3 linked regions of the Homo sapiens genome follow. The protein of the gene in region 3 interacts with the protein of the main gene of each other region in a pairwise test. Each region holds a gene or a part of one and is shown on either strand. Other genes may lie near its edges.

Evidence for each region. The genes of interacting proteins can lie anywhere in the genome.
Region 1: the proteins of ZSCAN12 (region 3) and SRPK2 interact in binary tests that used the Homo sapiens proteins (3 or more experiments, as listed by UniProt).
Region 2: the proteins of ZSCAN12 (region 3) and SPRED1 interact in binary tests that used the Homo sapiens proteins (3 or more experiments, as listed by UniProt).

What each region holds. Positions count from the first base shown.
Region 1 is NC_000007.14:105,126,899-105,133,922, forward strand, and holds part of SRPK2 (SRSF protein kinase 2), read right to left. Parts: exon of another isoform or gene 6,207-7,024; coding exon 6,106-6,206; exon of another isoform or gene 6,001-6,105; coding exon 5,893-6,000; exon of another isoform or gene 4,869-5,892; intron 1,995-4,868; exon of another isoform or gene 1,888-1,994; intron 165-1,887; coding exon 95-164; intron 1-94. UniProt on the Homo sapiens protein: Serine/arginine-rich protein-specific kinase which specifically phosphorylates its substrates at serine residues located in regions rich in arginine/serine dipeptides, known as RS domains and is involved in the phosphorylation of SR splicing factors and the regulation of splicing.
Region 2 is NC_000015.10:38,248,078-38,255,858, forward strand, and holds the start of SPRED1 (sprouty-related, EVH1 domain-containing protein 1), read left to right. Parts: upstream 1-4,758; 5' UTR 4,759-5,108; coding exon 5,109-5,140; intron 5,141-6,707; exon of another isoform or gene 6,708-6,826; intron 6,827-7,781. UniProt on the Homo sapiens protein: Tyrosine kinase substrate that inhibits growth-factor-mediated activation of MAP kinase. Negatively regulates hematopoiesis of bone marrow.
Region 3 is NC_000006.12:28,389,742-28,396,765, reverse strand, and holds part of ZSCAN12 (zinc finger and SCAN domain-containing protein 12), read left to right. Parts: intron 1-3,685; coding exon of another isoform or gene 3,686-3,719; coding exon 3,720-3,864; intron 3,865-5,023; coding exon 5,024-6,312; 3' UTR 6,313-7,024. UniProt on the Homo sapiens protein: May be involved in transcriptional regulation.

The sequences.
Region 1 (7,024 bases), on a different chromosome or scaffold from region 3:
TGGCTCTATTTCAGTACAAAAATACAGTACTCTACAGAAGTTCAGGGCTGGCAGAAGACCTAGACCGAGGTATTCAGCAGGCACCAATACTCACCTTCGTCTCTGGAATAGTCTTCCCCAGAATGTGGTTCAAACAAATAATCTCCCGTTGCCAGCTCAAATGCCTAGGATACAACAGACGACATGCTAAGCACTTCAGAGACTGGCCCCCAAGTCAACAGCTTTTTCTCCTTATAGAAGAGACCGCCACTTTATGAAGATCTGAATCAAACAAAATAGCCTCCTGAAAGTGCTCAATACTAATTTTTTTCTTTCTTCCACATTCAAAGAAGTTTCAGAAGTATTTTTACATTTCTAAGGAAAGATATAAGAGCTATGTATTCTCTTCATTTTGCAGGAAGCAAAACCAAAACGTCAGTGAGTCAGCCGCACCTGCATGCAGGCCTGGCCAGAGCGCGGTATGCACTCTATAAATGGTAGAACGAGAGTTCAACCCAGGACTCAACAAGGCCCGTCTGACTCCAGCACCTGCCTCAACCACTATAATAGCCTTGGCCTCTGTATAGCAGACACTGCTGCGTCTTTTAGGCGAAGACCTTCATGTTTTAGTAACCAAGGACTATTTTCAGTATCTCATCAACCATTTTCATCATCATTTCATTCATTTCTGATTCAACCAAAGGAAAACCTGGAAACAAAAAAGACCCTCTTTGTCCCCAGGGCCAGAGGAAGCAGATGGTCTTGCAGACCCTTTTGTGGATGTCACGGAGCACTGGCTTCCTGGGTGGCCACTGGCTGTCCCTCAGCATGCCAGCATGTAGGGAACACATTTCCCTTGCTCACAAAAAAACCCTCAAAAACATGAGTTTAAGCTAGTAACAATATACAAAAATGGCAACTGCTACTGCTCTGCTGATCAAAGAGAATGTTTTAAAAGAGAAAAAAAGAATAAGCTAAATCCCATTTCTGGTTTTTCTCATAGCTGCTTCTATTCTGAACGGATCTTGCTGTCCCAAAAGGTGCTCAGAGGCCCAATCACTGATGCCTGTGGATCTGTGACTGCCCTCCCCATTCCCGCCCCAAGGAGCCAATACTGGGGAAACTTCACTGCATCAACCTACCTTCTTTTTCTTTCAATGACCACACAGTGCTGGAAAGGCACCTTTAAGGGAAGGCTCACCTGCCTGGGTGAGGGGCCACCTCTCCTGGCACTGTCTTTAACAAACCAAGAGTGAGTGCAGTCAGCCCAGGACCACATCTTTTCACCTTTTTTAAAAAAAAAGACTGCCTGTCAATCACTTGAAGGAAGGAAGGATGGTGACAAGATGGCTTCCAGCTGACCGAGCGATAAGCATTAATTTATGAACTCAGGATCCCTGCCCTGAACCTGGCATAGGTCTGAGCAAGACACGGACATGTCACATCTCAGCATGGTGAGCTGGTGGTCCCAGCACTGTGGATGCACGAAGGCACCAGCAGAAAACCCAGGAAAGCCCTTATGTAGGGCCTCTCCTTTCCACCCAATAAACAAAGAAGACAGTTGGGCCAATCCCAGATGAGGGCAGGAAAACCTCATAACTGGCCCCAAATCCAAGTGGAACAACTAGATTACACACTCAATGGCCAGGAGAGTCCTTCTAGCCTGGGAAACAATCAATTCAGTATCTTACAAGCTAAGAGAAAAATCTGAAAACTCTAATGGGACAACGAGGACTTGAAAAGCCTGGATCAAGTTCCAAGCTGCTTTTCAACCCCTGCCTTGAGCCCTATGCTAACTAACTCTTTTAATTAATTTTCAAAATGACTTCAATCTGGTTGCATATATTTCTTTTTCTTTCATATTTTTTAGAGAAGGGACCTCGCTATGTTGTCCAGGCTGGACTCAACCTCTTGGGCTCCAGTGATCCTCTCTCAGCCTCCAGAGAAGCTGGGACTACAGGCGCACTACACTGCACCCAGCTTTGTACATATTTCTTACTGCCAAAATATGTCAGGTATGTATTCTTTGAAAAAAATCATCATTTTGATTAGCACCCACATATTCCCAAGAAAACATGTATAGAAGCCAATCAATGAAATAATTTTTTTTTGAGACGGAGTCTCGCTCTGTCACCCAGGCTGGAGTGCAGTGGCACAATCAATCTCAGCTCACTGCAAGCTCACACCATTCTCCTTGCCTCAGCCTCCTGAGTAGCTGGGACTACAGGCGCCCGCCACCACGCCCGGCTAATTTTTTGTAGAGACGGGATTTCACCATGTTAGCCTGACCTCGTGACCCGCCTGCCTCGGCCTCCCAAAGTGCTGGGATTACAGGCGTGAGCCACCAAGCCCGGCCAAATAATTTTCTTTTTTTTTAAAGGAACAAGGAAGATGAAGGCTGTAATGCTACCCATTTTTGATTCTTTGGAGAGTGGCAAGATTCTCTTAACAATACAACATGTACAACAGGGCAAATGCACATTACAATGAAAAAAACTCTGCCTTCAACTCAGTTACTCCCAGTATAACCTTCTATTGCCCAGGCTGAGTGCAGCGGCACAATTTTGGCTCACTACAACCTCTGCCTCCTGGGTTCAAGCGATTCTCCTGCCTCAGCCACCTGAGTAGCTAGGACTATAGGCACGTGCCACCATGCCCAGCTAATTTTTGTATTTTCAGTAGAGATGGGGTTTTGCCATGTTGGCCAGGCTGGTCTCAAACTCCTGGCCTCAAGTGATCTGCCTGCCTTGGCCTCCCAAAGTGCTGGGATTACAGGTGTGCATCACCTCGCTGGGCCTAAGTATAATCTTTATTATTATTTTTAATACCTGGGAACTCCGGATTCTTCTCTACTTGGCTCAATCCCCTCAAAGGGCTCTTCCCTGGACCTACTTGTTTCCAGATTCTTGGGAGACCAACTACCTCTCTCCTAAAACATTCTCCTATGCTGAAGTATCCCGATTCTGAACAAATAAGATCACGTATTTGTTCTGTAATGTGACCAGTGCCGAAGAAGTCTGGTGAAGTTTGTTGGAATGGCTTTTCTTGTTTCTATGGCACTGACCAGGACTCACCATGGAGTTCATAAAAAGTCCTATCAGAGACTCTAATACATAAATGCAGAGAAACCAATGCTTCAGCCACAAAGAAGTTTCAGATTATATGTACTTACACTGGAAGGTGTAAAGCTCAAAAAAAAAGTAAAACTCAAGAAAAGTAAAACAGATCCAAACCCAACATACCCTTGCTGTGGTCCCTCATTCTGTTGTGCTTCTCCAGCTGCAGAGCCTAAAGCTGTCCTCCCTGACAATAGCCAATGGCTACCACCCGTCAGCTCTCATTCCCAACAGAGTCTCTGTGAGATTTGATGCTATTTATAAATCTCAAAGACAGCCGGGCACAGTGTCACATCCCTGTAATCCCAGCACTATGGGAGACCAGGGCGGGTGGATCACTTGAGCTCAGGAGATCAAGACCAGCCTAGACAACGTGACAAACTCCATCTCTACAAAAAATACAAAAATTAGCCAGGCGTGGTGGCATGTGCCTGTAGTCCCAGCTACACCAGAGGCTGAGGTGGGAGGATCACTTGAGCTTGGGAAGTGGAGTCTGCAGTGAACTATAGTCCTGCCACTGCACTTCAGCTTGGGGAACAGAGCAAGACCTTGTCTCCAAACAAACAAACAAAACCCTCAAAGACTATATATAGGCTTTACCACCAAGAACCATCTGTGGCCTTATGACAGCTTGGTATTATGAGGTCAAATTTAATATATTAAATGTCCTATTTTTACACTACAACAGAACGATGAGGTAAGAAAAACTGCCTCATTGCTCCTAGGTTCTCTAGGAGGAACAAAAGAAACCTCTAAAGCCATGACTTTTGGGGGGTGGGGCAAGCAGTGAATGAGGGCCTGCCCCTTTCCAAAAAAAAAAAAACCTCCCTTATGACAACCAACTGAAAAAGCAAACCTCATAAGCCGTCCTGACAGCACTGAGGGAGCTTATGCTTAATTCTTGGGAAGGGGGCAGGTGAGAAGACAGAAAGGCTTTTCCTTGGGAATCTGTTATTGATATTTATGCCACTGTTCACAGCAATAGCATTTCAAGAAGTAAGCAGGACAGGGAAATTGTATGGAGGGACAAACGTTCATCTAATGGAAGGCAGGTCAGATAACCTGGTATAAAATTGTGCTGAAAGCTCCATTAACCCACTACATCCGTGACTGCGTCCTATTTTTCTGGTTATATCACCAAACTTAATACCCCAAATTAGAAGCACAGCATTTCAGAGTTCAAAGAGTACTTAGCGCCTAATTCGGGGCAGCCCTGCTGCTAGTGGCCATTGTGGTCTAACCTCCCCACATCCTGAAATGGCCCCTGCTCCCCGACTCCCACTCAGTGTCTCCGCAGCTCCCGTTACACTAACTCCCACGTCTCAGTCTGCCTGCTGGGGTCACACAGAGAGGGTCAAATGCCTCTCCACACAGCACTCTCTAAATTCAAAGTGACCATCATTGGCCACCGGTTCTTTTAACCGTTCTTTTCTATACCTAGCTAAGGCAGGGACTTGGTTTTTGATATGGAAGAACTTTAATACCTTTAATAATTTAAACGTTATTGTCTGGTATTATCCTTAAGAGCAACGAGGGAATAGAAAGGCCTGGTGTTTCAGGACCTATCTGGCCATGTGCTGACTCAGATCATGCTGAGTCAAAGCTGAAAGACAGAAAGCACCCTCTTTTTCTCCTATCAGCTGGCACTATCTGCTCAACAATGCTTTTACTTGAGCATTAGAGGAGGTAAAACACAGTAAATTCAAGAAAATTGTTAAATTAACCTCTGAATAACAGAAAATTAATATATTTATTCTGCATTCCTTTTTTCAGTGAGAAGAAAAATGCTAAGCCTTGCACACAATCTTTTCTTTTAAATATTGGAAGAATATGGATAAAAAGCAGTATGGAATAGGAAAAGCATGAAACCCAACAGCAAGCAACCCACCTTTCCCAACACGGAACGCCTAAGTAAATACCACTGAGAAAAAGCTGCTGAATGGGCCAGGAAACAGGGCAGAGGAAGAGAACCAGGAACTGGCTCGCAAATGCAGGGCCCTTTGTGTTCACCAACTCACAGGTTCAGGGTCAATGACCAAACGATGCCAGGCAGGGCCAGGGGAGTTTACAGACAATGCAACTGTGCAGCACAAAACCAGCAGCAAAACAGGCCTGACAGATAGAAGAAGAGGCTTCTGCCGCCCTGTGGAAGCCGTCATCTCAACCACTCTGGGAACAGACTCTGTCAGAGGGAGTGGGCGTTGCTGCCACTGTTTCAGAAGAGGCTAGACATCCTAGAATAAGCCAGAATATCTGCTAGCTCTTGCTTTATAAGGGAAGAGAGATTATGCATTGGCATCTGGGGAAATCCCTTCCAGTCTGGAAAGGTGAGGAACCCTGCATGTCTGGTTGACCAGGCAGAGGCTTACCTGGAGGGGCTCCCACCTGCCCGCCTTAGGCAGTCTTCCCCTGGAGATGCTACCTCATCTTCCTCCACAGTGTGAGTGAAGGGAAAAGCTCCCTATACCCTGCACATTTTCAGGGACCACAAGTGAAGTCACTGTGTCACAACAACTGAGTCTGATTCATGGGGCTGTGGGCTGTGCAGGGCCTTAAGAAGAGACCATGTCTCTCTCACAAGCCCACAACCACACCAAACACCCAGGGCCCGCCTGAGGAGGATCCTTCCACTTCTTAAGATGCCTGCGGCAGCAACCTTCCCCTCACCCAGCCCACGGTGGATGACCCTTACAGTCAGAAAAACTGAGGTCGCATGCCTCAGAGAGACTCAGCCCCATCCAGAGTGTGAAAGGAACGAGCCAATTCCCATGGCAGCAAAGGGCACAGCCGTCCTTACCATACACGCCGTGCTCCAGATGTCCGCAGGGGTGCTGTACCCCGCTCCTATTAAAACCTCTATGGAGCGGTACTGACGCGTCTGGATGTCTTCCGTGAAGTGTTTATGCTGGAAGGGAACAGGCTGCATTACCACGGAGCAACACAGACATTCAAAAAGTGTCTTCGCACACAGAATCAAGACCAAAGGTTTTAGAAAGAAAACTCTACTTACCACCCAACAAGCATTTCCCAGGTCAGCAATTTTTACTCTAATTTTATCTGCATTCCGCGGATCCAGGGGATTCACCAACAAGTCAGCTGCCCGGGTTTTTGCTGGCATGAGCAAACAGCAGGACAGTTAGTGATCGGGATAGGTGGTTTGCATGTGTGAGCACAGTGTTTGCCAGGGTCAGTCTCCTTTCCTCAAGAGTAGTGGAATGATCACTTAGGCCTGGAATACTGTAAATTAAACTTGACAGAACTAAAATTGCTTGTTCTCCACCTCTGGAAAATACTCCAGAAAAGAGCAAACTGGGCTGCCCACAGGACGCCAAGGGCACTGCCTTGACCTTTCTCTTTTTATCCCCAGTTTCTTCGGGTCCAGGTCAGCCCTAGAACAAGCCAGCCTTGCTGTCCCCCTGTCTGCAGCTTTGTGGCGGCTCTTCATGGTGTCAATCCATCCCTTCACGGCCCAGATCGAGCTTGCTGATGCATTATTACAAGGAACATGAAGGTAGAAAGAACACTGCTGTGGGGGCCGATCACTCTCAGTGACACACAGTTCCTTGGACGCCACAAGACATCAGGGTCCCTGGCACCGACACCTCACACCCACATCATCCCCTACAGTTCCCACTGCTTGGGCTGAGCACACACAGATCTCAAGGGGTAGATGACTGTTGATTAACAAACACAGATTAAAGGCAGGGACTAAACTATTCTGGTTTTGTTTTAGACAAGGAAGGTCCCAGACAGAGGTCTCCTGAGATGGCCTGGGCCATAAAGGCAACCTCTGAGGTCAGTCATGAACTTGTCATGTACATGAGCAGTCATTCTAAATTCCAGGATGACTCCAGGGAATCTCAAAGGCAGGTATAGGGCCAGCTTCCCAGAGATTCTGGGGCCAGATCTTCTCAAACAAGTTCAGATCA
Region 2 (7,781 bases), on a different chromosome or scaffold from region 3:
GCCAGAGGGGATTCCTGATTTCAACTCCAGTGCCAGTCAGTATAGCTTCATTTTTATATATAGTCAAGGCTCTGGTATAGTATTTTACCTAAAAAGCCTCTATTACTTACGACCACTGCTAAAAAGGATGCCAAAAAATATAAAGGGCAGCCCCTACCTTCAAGTCACTAAAATTTAATTGGGAAAACAAATATAAACTCATAAAAAATGAATCAGCAAAAATAATAATTATCAACACAAGTATAAACAGCAAAGGCAAAAATAAAAGAATCTGAGAAGACCAATTCTGAACTCATAAGAAAGATGATTACTATGGGCTGAGCAATGTGAAAAAAAGAAAAGAAACTTTGAATAGGAAAATAGCATGCCATCTGCCAGTGTCTCAGTGAGGACAGCCTACTTTTTGCTGTCCTTGTGAATAAACCCTGGCCTGATACCTACATGGAACTCAGAATCCACTTGTACCTTCTTAACTTGGATCATATCCTATACTGGCAATTACTTGGCAATTGTTCTCTTGTTCCTCCCTCTTTGGCCCATGGATCCTATTGATAATTAATTACCTCGAACAGGTCATTAAATGGTTGTGGCTAATTCCTAAAGCTGAGGACAATAATACAGATAGTCACTTGTGATAACCAGCTATTGTGACTAGCTTCCTTCCCACAGGGCTACCTAGAAAACACAACTGAGCAAATATAAGTATCTCCTTTCTTGCTGAGCCCGAATGTGGCCATAGAATTCTTCTTGATTAGTACCAACTGAATGGAGTTGGAGCTTAAGACAAAACTGTGATCTGTATTTAGCTTCTCACATCTGGCTGGATCCCCTTTCCTAACTGAACTATCCCTCTGGCCTTGACCAGTGTCTATCTAAGCTTATGATATACCACTGGCCACCCTTTTTTGTGTTTAGCTGGAACACAGCTTTCAATCACGGATGTGCTGGGAGACAGGATGACAAAAATGGTTTTAAGGAAAGGGGGAGTAGATGATGAAGGACTAAAAAGGGCCAAGCACCTGGCATACTTACAAAAGCATGGCCCCATCATAGACCTAGTGATCACAATTTCTGAGCTGGGGTCTAGGAATCTGCATTTTAAGTACTTGCAGTGTATTTTAAAAAAATTATTATAGAACATTTTAAATTATAAAATAGTAAAGAGAATGTATTCATCATTAATCTATAACCAATCTTGTTTCATCTATATCCTTACCCATTCTTCCTACTCCTCACCCCAGTGGATTATTCTGAAGCATAACGTTTCATCTGTAAATATTTTAGTACATATCTCTGAAAGGTAAGGACTTGAAGAAAATGTTGCCATAAACCAATACTTAAAAAAAATTCCTTGTTTTCATCAAATCTCCAGTTAATGTTCAAATCTCTCCAGTTGTCCCAAATTTAAAAATATTTAAGTCACGATCCAAATAAGATCTCACACATTGTCTTTGGTTGGTACGTCTCTTTACTCTTAAGGTCCAGACACCCGGATAGATAAGTCGAGGCCTCCTGAGTATAGAGCAGCCAGTGATTGACAGTCAGACTAGAAGATCCCTTGGCTCTGAGCAGTAGCACCATTTCTGACTGCTTCAGAGTAGAAGACTCTGAGCTCTGCTAAACCAAAGCAAATTTTTAAAAAGTTGGTGAGATCTTTAACAACTGGGTGAGAGAACTACAAATGCGTTGTTGAAAAAAGGGCACAAAAGTGTTCTAGAAATGGCATAGGACCACCAAAGGCTGTGGATGGTTTGCTGACTATGTCTTGGTCGTGGAGTTGAGAGCAATCTTTAAAGCATTAATTTGGGCTATTGATCACATCTTGCTCCCTTTATGTAAGCAGTGTGTGGTGTATGTGGAATGTGGAAATAGCCAGCACAGTGCCTGGCTCATGACAACCAAGATTCTTCCAAAGACTATACTGACAATTTCCTTGATACACTAGAACCTCAAACAGATGCAAATCTTCAAAAGATAAAGGCCTTTGCAAATGACCGACTTTCCTTCTATTTACTTAATCATAATAACTGTGATAGTTTCATTTATTAATGGCTTACTAAGGACCAGGCCATGTGTCTAGCAACTGATAGTTATTTGTTGAATGCATGAACAAGAATATTGAATGCTTTACATTTAATCCTCAGAGCATCTGCCACTATTTTGCCATGAAGTTTATTACTATCTCTGACAAAACAGTAGTAAGAACTAGGACTTATTCTTACTGTGAATTCTTAATCTGTTCTAAGTAACTCTGTATATTATTATCTCGTTCATCAGCACAACAGCTGTGTAAGTTAAGTACTATTATCCCCATTTTATGCAGGCCCAGAGTTTCAGTAACTTGGATAAGAACACAGATTATAACTGATGGTACTTGACTGAAACTTGAGCAGCCTAACTGGTTAACAGTAGTCCTGGAAGGGGAAGAGGCCAGTATCAACACTCCCATGTATAAGTTCTTGGCAAGAATAAGTTCAAAAAGGCAGGTTTAGAGGTCATGTCTAGCACAGACCATCATCAACATTGCCCCTCTCTTTCTCAAGAGTAAGGACAATGCTGCTGCTGAGGCAGGAATCAAGTTACATAAAGAGACCTCAGAAATCAATGGGATGGTTTTTTGGGTACATTGACTGGTTTAGCGCCTCTGTTCATTCGTCAAACATTTATTAAGCACCTGCTACGTGCAAAACACTGTTAACAGTGCACTACTGTGCACGCTCATTCTCAGAACAACAATCCTGCGATTCCTGGAGAGGGATGGTAGAAGAGGAGTGCTGCCTTGTTAACGAGGTTCTCCCAACTTCTTTTTTTCCTCGGGAATTGTTCTCTTTAATGTGGCACCAGCGGCAACCTTCATTCTTAGGTCGCACAAATCTGAGAAGGAAGAGAAAAACATTGCACGCAGGGCGAGACTTATATCTGGGAAGATGCGTCAGGAACTTGGGAGCACTTGGGATTCAGTCCCCTAAGGTGGTTCATGTACAGGCTGGTTTTCTAAGTGGAGAACAGATAATAGAATTTGCAGAGCCAGGAGCTCTGACTCCTGTGGCTGGGCTGACCTTAGGCTCCAGCCCGCAACCCCAGTAGGTTTCTGTGCAAAAATCTTTTGAGATGAATGCATACTTTGTCTTCTAACAATGCATTCGTGACAGCTGTCTATCCAATCGGTCCGCCTCCGTTCAGAGCAGTTCGTGCCACAGAAGCATCTCCTGCGCTATAGTTATGCAACCTCACTCGCAGCGGGAGTTATTTCCTCCGTTCTGGCTGCGCCAGATTCATGTAACACGCCTACCCTGGGCTTCAATGGAAGTCGTTCTCCATTAACAATCACTCCAGCTTTCCGAGATGAATGCCCTGATAGCATACCCCTTGCGCAGTAAGAATCCAGGCAGCGAGGCGAGGTGTTAAAACACACATACATTCTCATATTCTCTCTCTCTCTCTCTCACACACACACACACACACACACACACACACATACACTTCGTGCATGCAGCTAGGGGACTGCAGCAGTGCAACCAGGGGGACAGCAGGAGGAGCTCTCTTTGCAGTCCCTGCTTCTAACCCCCACTAACTAAAGATGAACTCATGCCAGTTCCATTCTTTGCTCTGCAAAGAAAACACACACACACACACACACACACACACACACACACACACACACACGGCAGAAGAGAGTAGCCTCCAGATTTCCCCTCTGAGCACACTGTCTTTCTAGCCTCTTCGTTCAAGCAACCCGGATATTCCAAGCAGAGTAACGGGGAGTAACGCGCCACAACAATGCAACCTCCCTAGCAGCTCCCCTCGCAGCTCCCACCCCCGCCCCCTTTCGCGGCGTGCCAAGAGTTTGGAGCGCGCGCACGCACACCGAGCACGGTGCAGGGAGGATATCCCTCCGCCTCCCTCCCCCTTTCTCCGCTAAGTGGCTCGACAACGATTTGGGAAATGAAGGGAGGAGGGAACTACTTTCCTGAAACTTGCTATGCTGCACATGACTTCGAGTTGCAGTGATTCGCCCGGAGGCCGCGGCTTTTAGTCCTACCCACACACCCTCACAGCCTGGGCACCCCGCTCGGCAGCCCCACCCCGCGCCCGCTCTGGCCTCCGGGGAAAGCGGGCGGCCGGGAGAAGTCGCGAGGGACTACTTCGCCTCCTTCTCTCGCGGGCGCCCCCGGTTCGGGCAGCGGCTGCGGCGGCGGAAGGAGCGGGCGGCGTGAGCGCTTCCGCCGCCCCCCTCGCGGCTCCCCTCTCTCGGGCGTGAGGAGCTGGCCCGCTGAGCTGCTGGTGGGCACTGGCTGGCGGGGAACCTGCAGCCGCTCTTGTCCTCTCCCGCCGCTTCTCGGGATCCTGCCCCCCGGACCCGGGCCCGCCCGCTCTTCTCCGGCCGGGTGGGAACGATCGGTTTGCCTGCCCCTCGCCTCACACGCTCCCCGCCGCCCCCTCCACCCCCCTGAGGAGGAGTCCCGGCTGGAGCGTGTCTGGAGGAATCCGCCGCCGCGGGGCCCCTAGCCCTGCTCTGCCGGCGCCTGAGGACCGACCCAGACGCCGCCGGGGGTTGAGGGGCAGCCGGCGGCGAGGCGGGAGATGGTGGGGTGGGCTCCGGCAGGACCGCGCCGCCGCTGCCCGGAGCCTGGGCTCGGCACCCCCCCGCCGGCCCCCACCGAGCGGAGCTCTGCTTCCTCCTCGCCGCATCCCTGAGGGAAGCGCCGCCTCTGCTCCCGGGTTCTCCGCCCGCCGACTCCTTCCTGGCCGGACCCCGCTGCGCTCCACCCCAGTGGCTGGAGGAGCAGCTCTCCAGTCAGCCTTTGCAGCCCCTCTCTTTTTCCCTTTCCACCGGGCCTCCTCGGATCCCTTGGCTGGGCACTGAGGCGGGGGAAGAGGCTGGGGTCGCCACGGCGGAGGTTGCTGCCGCCACCCCCCTGCGGGGGTGGCCGGGGTTCCCGGCTGGGGGGGTACCGTTCTGGGTGAGGCATCCACCATGGTGAGGCCCCTGTGCCGCTGCCCCCGCGCCCCCCCGGCCGCCGCTGCCTCCTGCCCCTCGGTGCTGCTGTTGCTCCCCCGCCTGCTGTTGCTCCTCCATCTCCAGATCGGATCACGGTGAGGGAAAGATGAGCGAGGAGACGGCGACTTCTGACAACGAGTAAGCGCCTCATTGATCTCGATTGCTAATCCCCCTCCCCCTATCCGCCCTCGGCTCTCCCCCAGACCCATCCGAAACTTGGGTGCCGGAAAGCTTGCGACCCTGGAGAGTTCGGTGCATCTTCTGGAGATAGCTGATTTCTTTAGCCATTTTTAGTGGCAGCACCCCTCCCCATCCTCCCACATTTAGCTGCTTTCTTTTGGGGTAGGGGATTAAGTGTTGGGAGAGGATGGCAATTGTACGTCTATGAGAGGGAATAATGTGGATGGATGGAAGTGGAGTAGAAACTACCCCTTTGCCTGTGAGACCCCTGTCCCGTCCTTTTTCACTCACATACCAGTCACCATACCTTCAGTATCCATCCTACTTCCTTTATAGCTGTTTCACTTGGAAACTAATGTGTGGGAGCACCTCCTGCAGCAAACTGCTCTTGAATCTTAATTCGATGAGTCAGTGACTCTTAAATACCGATTAAGCCTTCACCCTCTCCCCCCTCCCCCTTTTAAACTTATGACCTGTAAGATTCTTGTAAAAAATAGGGTTAGGGAAACATTTTTAGAATTTAATAGGATTAAGGACACCTGGAGTGTGGGCGATGTTGAGCTAGAGTTTACCTTTGTGAATATTGGACGTGTCTTCAGGAACGGAGAAGAATTTTGAATGCTAATTTTTACCTTTCAGCTATGTGAAAACACATGATTTACGTTGATGTAACCGAATTTACATTGCTGAATATGTTGGTGATTTCATTAACTTTTAGAGCATTCCGGTTTAAGTTTTAGCTTATTTGGGCTTTCTCCTTGCTTTCCAAACGAAATACTTCGTCTTTTAAATGTTTTGCTTTAACGTGACAGCTGCGTGGAGAAATAATGGTTGGCAACACTTTTCTATTGAGAAGGGATTTAATTCCAAGCAGAATATTAGCATCCGTTTTCTTGTAATTAAGTTCAACTTTTGTTTATCTTCGGAGGGTTGGAAAGAGTTAAGTGAGTTAGGACTTAGTCATTTGGATGCATTCCTTTAAATACAGTGCATTACTAAAGTCAGACCTTTTTGAAATAACTTTTTAAAGTCTGTACCGAGTCCTGTTTAACGTAAAATAGCTAGAGAAAGGCCAAACAACATTTCCTCCTCCCTTACTCCCTCCCCACCCCAAAACACACGCTTCTGCTGAGCGGGTGTAGAAGGAGGTACATTGCTGCAGTGTCAGTGCAGTGTAGAAGCAGAAGTGGCAGCCATGTTCTGTCTCTTTTTGTGAATCGCCCTCATTTGCATAGCACACTCTTCATTCATAAAAAAAATAATTAAACATCCATCACCTTGGACATCTTGAAAGGATTTCCCAAGAAAAAAAATTCGCGGCTTATTTGTCTGTGTGTAGATTTTTGAGTTCAGAAGGTAAGAAGAATGTGAAATTTTAGGTTAAATTTAAAAACATACGCACACACAAACAACTACCCCTGTTCTGAGAATGTTGACACAGTTATGTGGGAAATATCAGTTCGGGGAGGTGCTGGGATCACGTGATCGCCTCCATTCATAAAATACCTGGCTGTCCATTCAGAGTGCAGTACAGTCTCTCCCTGCCTTCTGCAGATTAGACCTACTTTGAGGGAGATCAAGAAGTCTATCTCAGATAATGGTTATTTAGGAGAAGAACTGCTAAAAATGCTGAACCGAATGACGGTAACTTTTATTGGTATCTTTCAAAAAGTTTGGATTAAAAATGTTAAGTTTTCTTTTAGAGATGGGAAAAGACTTCTTACCAGTTTAATTTTTTTCTTAAAGCAGTGAATATCTCCTTGTTTCCTTCTGGTTGCAGCTAATAAAAAAAGCAGATGATGGAATGTGAATTAACACAAGTAAAATATATTTTTTCTAAATGGCCATTTTTTTAAATACTTGCCATAAATAAATTGAGACAACAGGTTTTTTTGTATAGTGATAGTGCGTTCCACTGCTATTACAGTAAATTGAGAAAATACTCCCAGTGATTTAATCCCCAAGATGTTGATATTTGAAACACCGATGGCAATCTTCAGTGAGAGGATTGCTTTAAATATTTTTTTTTCATCTAAATGTACTTAGTATGGGACAACTTGGAAATTATCTCACTCACCCAGACTTTTAAAATCGTTTTTTCACAAATTTATCCTGCTTTATTAATAAATTATTCCCTAGGAGCTTTGTAATACTTTTTAAGTTTGGGCAGGGCGATAATAATATTTAGCATAATATTTTGGTAAACTCTTCATGGGAACAAAATCTTGGGGGTTTTACTTTAAAAAACTCTATTATATTAGAAAATAATGTGTTCATCTGATAATCAGTTTTACTAGAGCCAGCATTGTTTGCTTGTGCATTAGATAAACCACAGAGTGAACTTATTTGGAATGTAGCTTTTAATATAGTAATTTATGTCTCATCTTTAATAGGTGAACCGTTTTGAAATGGAAATTTATTATTTATAGTCATTATGAAGAAAGATACGTATCATGGCAGAAGCCATTAAGGCCTTAGCACAGTTTAAAACTGCCCTGTAACATGGATTTTATTTGGGCCTTACATTTTTTTCCCTTTTCTCTTTTTTAAAGCCATTGCTCATAGGGATTTAATTACAGTAGGGACTATTTTTAACATT
Region 3 (7,024 bases):
GGGTGTGGCAGGACATGCCTGTAATCCCAGGTACTTGGTAGGCTGAAGCAGGAGAATCACTTGAACCTAGGAGGCAGAGGTTGCAGTGAGCCGAGATTGTGCCACTGTACCCCAGCCTGGGCAACAGAGTGAGACTCCGTTTAAAAAACAAAACAAACAAACAAACAGAAAAAAGAAATAGGATCGTGAAAGTGTGATTACCAAGGATGAGGCATGTCTTAGGTAAGAACTGTTTGGAAGTGATGACAGATTAGCTCTATTAAATAAAGAAGGAAGAACCAATGGAGAACTCTTTACAGAGCAATGTATTCTAAGCTAAACACTAGGGATTTTAAGCTTGAAAGACTAGTATAATGGAGACACTCCTAACAAAGTTAAAGACTGCAGGAAACAATTAAGCACATATTTACCGAATGTCTGTTTGGACTAGGTACTGTTTTAGGCACTGTGAATGCAACAGCGAACAAAACACAGGGGTTGCTGCTCTCATGTAGGTTCTGGTCCACTGAGACAGATAGTAAATTAAAAATCAACAAACCAGCCTGGGCAACATAGTGAGACCCCCATCTCTATAAAAAATACAAAAATTAGCCAGGCAGGTGTGTGTAGTCCTAGCTACTTGAGAGGCTAAAGTGGGAGGATTGCTTGAGCCCAGGAGATCGAGGCTGCAGTGAACCACGATCATACCACTGCACTCCAGCCTGGGCGACACAGTGAGACCCTATCTCCAAAAAAAAAAAAAAAAATCAACAAACACCTACAAGATGTAGGTGGTAATAAATTCTGTTCAAACAACAACAACAATAAAAGCAGAGAAAAGGAATAGTGAAATAAGTGGGGATTGTGCTGTTTTCTGTAGACTTGTCAGAGAAGGTTTTTCAGATAGGTGACATTTACAGGAGAAATCTGAATGAAAAGAGCAAGCCATAAGCTATCAGGGATAACAGCATTCAGGCAGAGGGTCTTAAAGTGAGAATGTACTTATCATGGTGGAGATGTGGTTGTCAAGGAGGAGATGAAATAAAATGCTTATAAGATTATATTATGTCAGAACTTGTAGGCCATTATAAGAATTTCGAATTGTATTCTGAGATGGAAAGTCATTGGAGAATTTTGAACAGAAGCGAGATATAATCTGACTTGAATTTTAAAATAGTCACTCTGGCTACTGTGAGAAAGTTCCACAATGGGGCTGGGGTAGCCATAGGAGTAAAAGGTAGAGGCAACGAAACCATTTTAGGAGCAATAATAATAAGCAATAATCCAGGCAAGAGATATTGGTGACTTGGACTAGAATAGTAGCAGTGGGAGTGGTAAAATGTGATTGGATTCTGGATATATTTTGGAGCTAGAGCTTGACAGGGTTTGTTTTTATATAGAATGTGGAATATGAGAGAAAGTAAGTTAAGGATTATGCCGAAGTATTTGGTCTGAACATCAGATAGAGTGGATTTGTCATTCATAGAGATGGTAAAGACTGGGAGAGAAGTGGGTTTGGGGTGGAAAGACAGGAATCAAAACTTAGGGTTTGGGCCAGGCACGGTGGCTCAAGCCTGCAATCCTAGCACTTTGGGAGGCCAATGTGGGCAGATCACCTGAGGTCAGGAGTTCAAGACCAGCCTGGCCAACATGATGAAAGCCTGTCTCTACTAAAAATACAAAAATTAGCTGGGTGTGGTGGCAGGCACCTATAATCCCAGCTACTCAGGAGGCTGAGGCAGGAGAATCGCTTGAACCCAGGAGTCGGAAGTTGCAGTGAACCAAGATCTTGCCACTGCACTCCAGCCTGGACGACAGAGTGAGACTCTGCCTCAAAAAAACAAAAAAAACAGGGTTTGGACATGTTAATTTTGAGATTCCTATTAGAATCCAAGCAGAAAAGTTGAGCAAACAACTAGATATAATAAACTGGAATTCAGTGGAAGGGTCTGTGCTAGAACTACAGAATTGGGGCTTTTCAGAATACGCATAGTATTTAAAGCCACGAGATAGGATGAGATCATGAAGGGAGTAATGAGCAGTAGAAACAGAGTAGCTAGGGAGGTACAAAGAATGGGATTCTTAGATGCAGACAAAAGTAATTTGGTTTTAAATGTGCTGAATTTGTATTGCCAACCAGTTCTTTCTCTGAAAGCACTGCAGGGGCATATAATGGAGTTTACAGCTTGATTTCTGAGGCCTGACCAGAGATCCCAGAATAGAAGGCACAGCTCGCAGTACTGGCCTTTTCCCCCGGCTTTCTTTTTTCAAAATATGAGATATCAAAACACCGTTTTCTATACATCTGAGATAGCATTTTGCTGACTCTCGCTTTTATTCTGAAGACTGAGGCTACAAAATGAAAATGTATCAGGGAAATAGAGGCAGTATATGGTGATTTCTTAGTTATAAAATTTAACCTTTGAAGAGAATGGGGGAGTAATTTGAGAACCTGTTGTATGCCAATCCCTGTGCAAGGTGGTTTATACAAATGTTATTTATAATCTCAGAGAGAGTAAGTAACTAGCCCAAGGTCACAGAGCTACTAGACTAAGAGAGAGAGTAAGTAATCCATGTGATTCCAAATCCCTGCTTTTTACAATACCTTGCTGAAGAAACCTGTTATTTTTAAATGCAAGAGGAAATAAGCCCATGGAAGAATGGGAGCCACCCAGTGGCTGAAATTGAATAAATGAGTTAACTGAGGGAGCAAGGGTCAGAGAGAAGCCAAAAGTGATGGGATTGAAGGCAAAAGTAGAGACGTAAGCCTTGAAAAAGAGAAGACATCATCCTAAGATAGAAGAAATGGAGAGGAGTATGAGGGTGGAGATAGATAAAATGAAGAGTAGATGATTTTTGAGATGATTGTGATCTTGGATAAATAGAAAATAAGATAATCTTCCCAGAGAGAAGTGGGACGGGCACCTCAGAAGAGCAGAGACTATTGGGAACAGCTTAGGGAATGAATATGGAAGAGATTTCTCTCCTTCCCTTCTTTTCCCTTTCTTTCTCCTCATTTGTTCCCTTCAACCTTTTTTTTTTTTTTTTTTGGAGCTACAGTGTCTCTGTCACCCAGGCTGGAGTTCAGTAGTGTAATCATAGTTCACTATAACCTTGAACTGGGCTCAAGCAGTCCTCCTGCCTTAGTCCCCTGAGTAGTTAGGACTACAGATGTGCACCACCATGCCCAGATCATTTTTAATTTTTTTGGAGAGATGGGGTCTTGCTATATTGCCTAGGCTGGTCTCAAACTCCTGGCCTCAAGCAATCCTCCCACCATGGCATCCCAAGGGTGCCTTTTTTTTTTTTTTTTTATCATTTCTCTACATTATTTACCTTTACATATCCCCTTTCCTTTTCCTCTTTCTCTCTTAATGTTTTATTTTACCCTAAGTTCTATCTTATTTCCTCCTTTCTGCCTCTTTTCACCTTTTTCTTCTCTCCTTTGTTTTGTCTTTCTCCCTTTCCTTTCTCCACTTCTTTAAGCATAAGATAAAGAGGTAACAGTGGCACAACCAACATACTTTAGCGGTAACAACAGGAGAAATTACATCTGGGTGGAGAAGGGAAGATTCCCCAGAGGAGGCGACATTTATATTGGCCTTGAAGAATGGGTAGGGTTATGGCAGGCTTATATCTGGGAAAAAGGTCATTTCAGGGTTCAGCCACTGCCACAAATAGTATACTTTTTGTTTTCTGTTATCAGAGTGAGTCTGTCAGCTACATCTCATTTTCCTCAGGTCTCAGTCCACACTGGGGAACAGGAAATGTTCTTGCAGGAGACGGTACGTCTACGAAAAGAAGGAGAACCCAGTATGTCCCTCCAGTCCATGAAAGCCCAGCCAAAGTATGAATCTCCAGAACTTGAATCCCAACAGGAGCAAGGTAAAGAAGAAAGACCCATCTTGGGAGGAAGGGGAAGATGGGTAACATAGGACATTGGGGCTTTTTTGTACTTGCTACTGTTTCTGATCATTAAAGTCAAAAAGGCCGTCTCAGAATCTGATGGCTCATATATAGACTCTCAGACAGCCTAGTTTGTCACTCTTCAACCCTTACTTTTTTGTATATTCATATTCTTCTAAATTCTGGCTTTACCACTTAATTTAGTCCTTCTGATATTTATCTCTCTTTATACTGACCTCCTTGCTATTTTTAGCCTTTATCCTATCAGACAATACCTCTATCTTCCACTTGCACTATATCCTTTCTGCTTCACTAAATAAGCCTTTGCTCCATTATGTCTGCAACTAACTTTCAGATGGTTCAAGAAAAAAAAAATTTGTATACTTACAAAGAAAAGGAGTAACAGGCTGGGTGCGGTGGCTCACGCCTATAATCCCAACACTTTGGGAGGCCAAGGTGGGTGGATCACGAGGTCAGGAGTTCGAGACCAGCCTGACCAACATGGTGAAACCCCGTGTCTACTAAAAATACAAAAATTAGCTGGGCATGGTGGCGCGTGCCTGTAATCCCAGCTACTCAGGAGGCTGAGGCAGGAGAATCGCTTGAACCTAGGAGGCGGAGGTTGCAGTGAGCTGACATCACCCCACTGCACTCCAGCCTGAGCAACAGAGCAAGACTGTCTCAAAAAAAAAAAAAAGAAAAAGAAAAAATAATAAAACAAATGTTGCAAAATATTAAAAGTTGGTGAATGTGTGAAAGATCCGCTACCTTATTTCTACTTTCTCTGCATCCTTTTCATTTTCATTTAATTTTTTAAGTAGGTAAAAATGTACATGGCTCAAAAACAAAAATTTTTTAAGTTATTTAATGAAAAGTTTCTATTCTACTCGATTTTCCCAGCCACCTAGTCTCTTCCTCCTACTCTGAAATAGGTTGTAACTGTTACTAATTTTTCGTGTGTCCTTCCAGATATTTTTTTGATGCATATGTTTTCCATATTGAAACAAATATATTTTGCTCTCTTTATCACTAAGATGGTAGACTCTTGCATTTTTTATTTCTAAACAGCTGCTTAATATTAAAATGTATGGATACATTTTAAAGGTAGAAAGAGGTAACATTTATGATCCCTTCTTAGTTTTAGATGTTGAGACTGGAAATGAGTATGGGAATTTAAAGCAAGAAGTTTCTGAAGAAATGGAACCACATGGGAAGACATCCAGTAAATTTGAAAATGATATGTCCAAGTCTGCTAGGTGTGGAGAAACTCGTGAACCTGAAGAAATAACAGAAGAGCCCTCTGCTTGCTCCAGAGAAGATAAACAACCTACCTGTGATGAAAATGGAGTAAGCCTGACTGAGAACTCTGACCATACTGAACATCAGAGAATCTGTCCAGGAGAAGAATCTTACGGATGTGATGACTGTGGAAAAGCTTTTAGTCAGCACTCACACCTCATAGAACATCAGAGGATCCATACTGGAGATAGACCCTACAAATGCGAAGAATGTGGAAAAGCTTTCCGTGGGAGAACTGTGCTTATTCGACACAAAATAATACACACTGGAGAGAAACCGTATAAGTGTAATGAATGTGGCAAAGCCTTTGGCCGGTGGTCAGCTCTTAACCAACATCAGAGACTTCACACAGGAGAAAAACACTATCACTGTAATGACTGTGGCAAAGCCTTTAGTCAGAAAGCAGGCCTCTTTCACCATATCAAGATCCACACAAGAGACAAACCTTATCAGTGCACTCAGTGTAATAAAAGTTTTAGTCGGCGTTCCATACTTACTCAGCATCAAGGAGTTCATACCGGCGCCAAGCCGTATGAGTGCAACGAGTGTGGAAAAGCCTTTGTTTATAACTCATCCCTTGTTTCCCATCAGGAAATCCACCACAAAGAAAAATGCTATCAGTGTAAGGAATGTGGGAAATCCTTCAGTCAGAGTGGCCTTATTCAGCATCAGAGAATTCACACTGGGGAAAAACCCTACAAATGTGACGTATGTGAAAAAGCCTTTATTCAAAGGACAAGTCTTACAGAACATCAGCGAATTCACACTGGAGAAAGACCCTATAAATGTGATAAGTGTGGGAAGGCGTTTACTCAAAGATCAGTCCTCACGGAACATCAGAGAATCCACACTGGAGAGAGGCCCTACAAGTGTGATGAGTGTGGGAATGCCTTCCGAGGAATCACCAGCCTCATTCAGCATCAGAGAATCCACACTGGGGAGAAGCCCTACCAATGTGATGAGTGTGGAAAAGCCTTCAGACAGAGGTCAGATCTTAGTAAACACCAGAGAATCCATAATAGACGTGGTACCTATGTATGTAAAGAGTGTGGGAAATCATTCAGGCAGAACTCAGCTCTTACTCAACATCAGACTATCCACAAAGGAGAAAAATCTGTTTCTGTGTGATGACTACAGGGAAGTTATCTCACAGAGTTCAGGCCGGTGAGAAATACTATTTAGCTTTACAATTATTGGGGCAAAACTTCAGTCACCATTGTTATAAGGAAACCTCAGATATTTAATAAGAATTCACTGTGTGCTGCCCATTGTACTACGTGCTGTGGAGAACAAGAAGATAACCCCAAACTCTTTTCTCAGAGAGTTTGTAGCCTAGTTTGGGATAGATAAGATCCACATATTTAGTCATATAAGACTACAGGAGAGTAGAATTGATGCACCAGATGGTGTCGAATGAAAGTGGTACTTTGTAACAGACTATAAGTGCTGTAAATTCTAAAGGACAGGTTACTTTTGCCTGGAGTGGTCAAGAAAGATTTTATTTAAAATAAGGATTTGACGGGCAGACTTAGCAGTCAAAAGGGAGAAAGCGGGTAAAACAAATGTAAGCCATCATAAGAGTGCATGTGGTTTGGAAGCATCAGGGAAAAGACTAGCCAACCTGAAGTAAAAGGTTCGTGCAAATTGGGCAATCAATAGCATTAAGTTGGAAACAGCTTGGGGACAGACACATAAGAGGGCCAGAGTGTGAATAATTTCATCTAATACTTTATAGCACTTGGACATTTACAGAGCACTTTTCTCAATTCCTAAAATACCTTGGTAAATCAAAAGCATTCTCCATTTTAAAAATGAGAATACTCTTGCCTATGGAGATGGC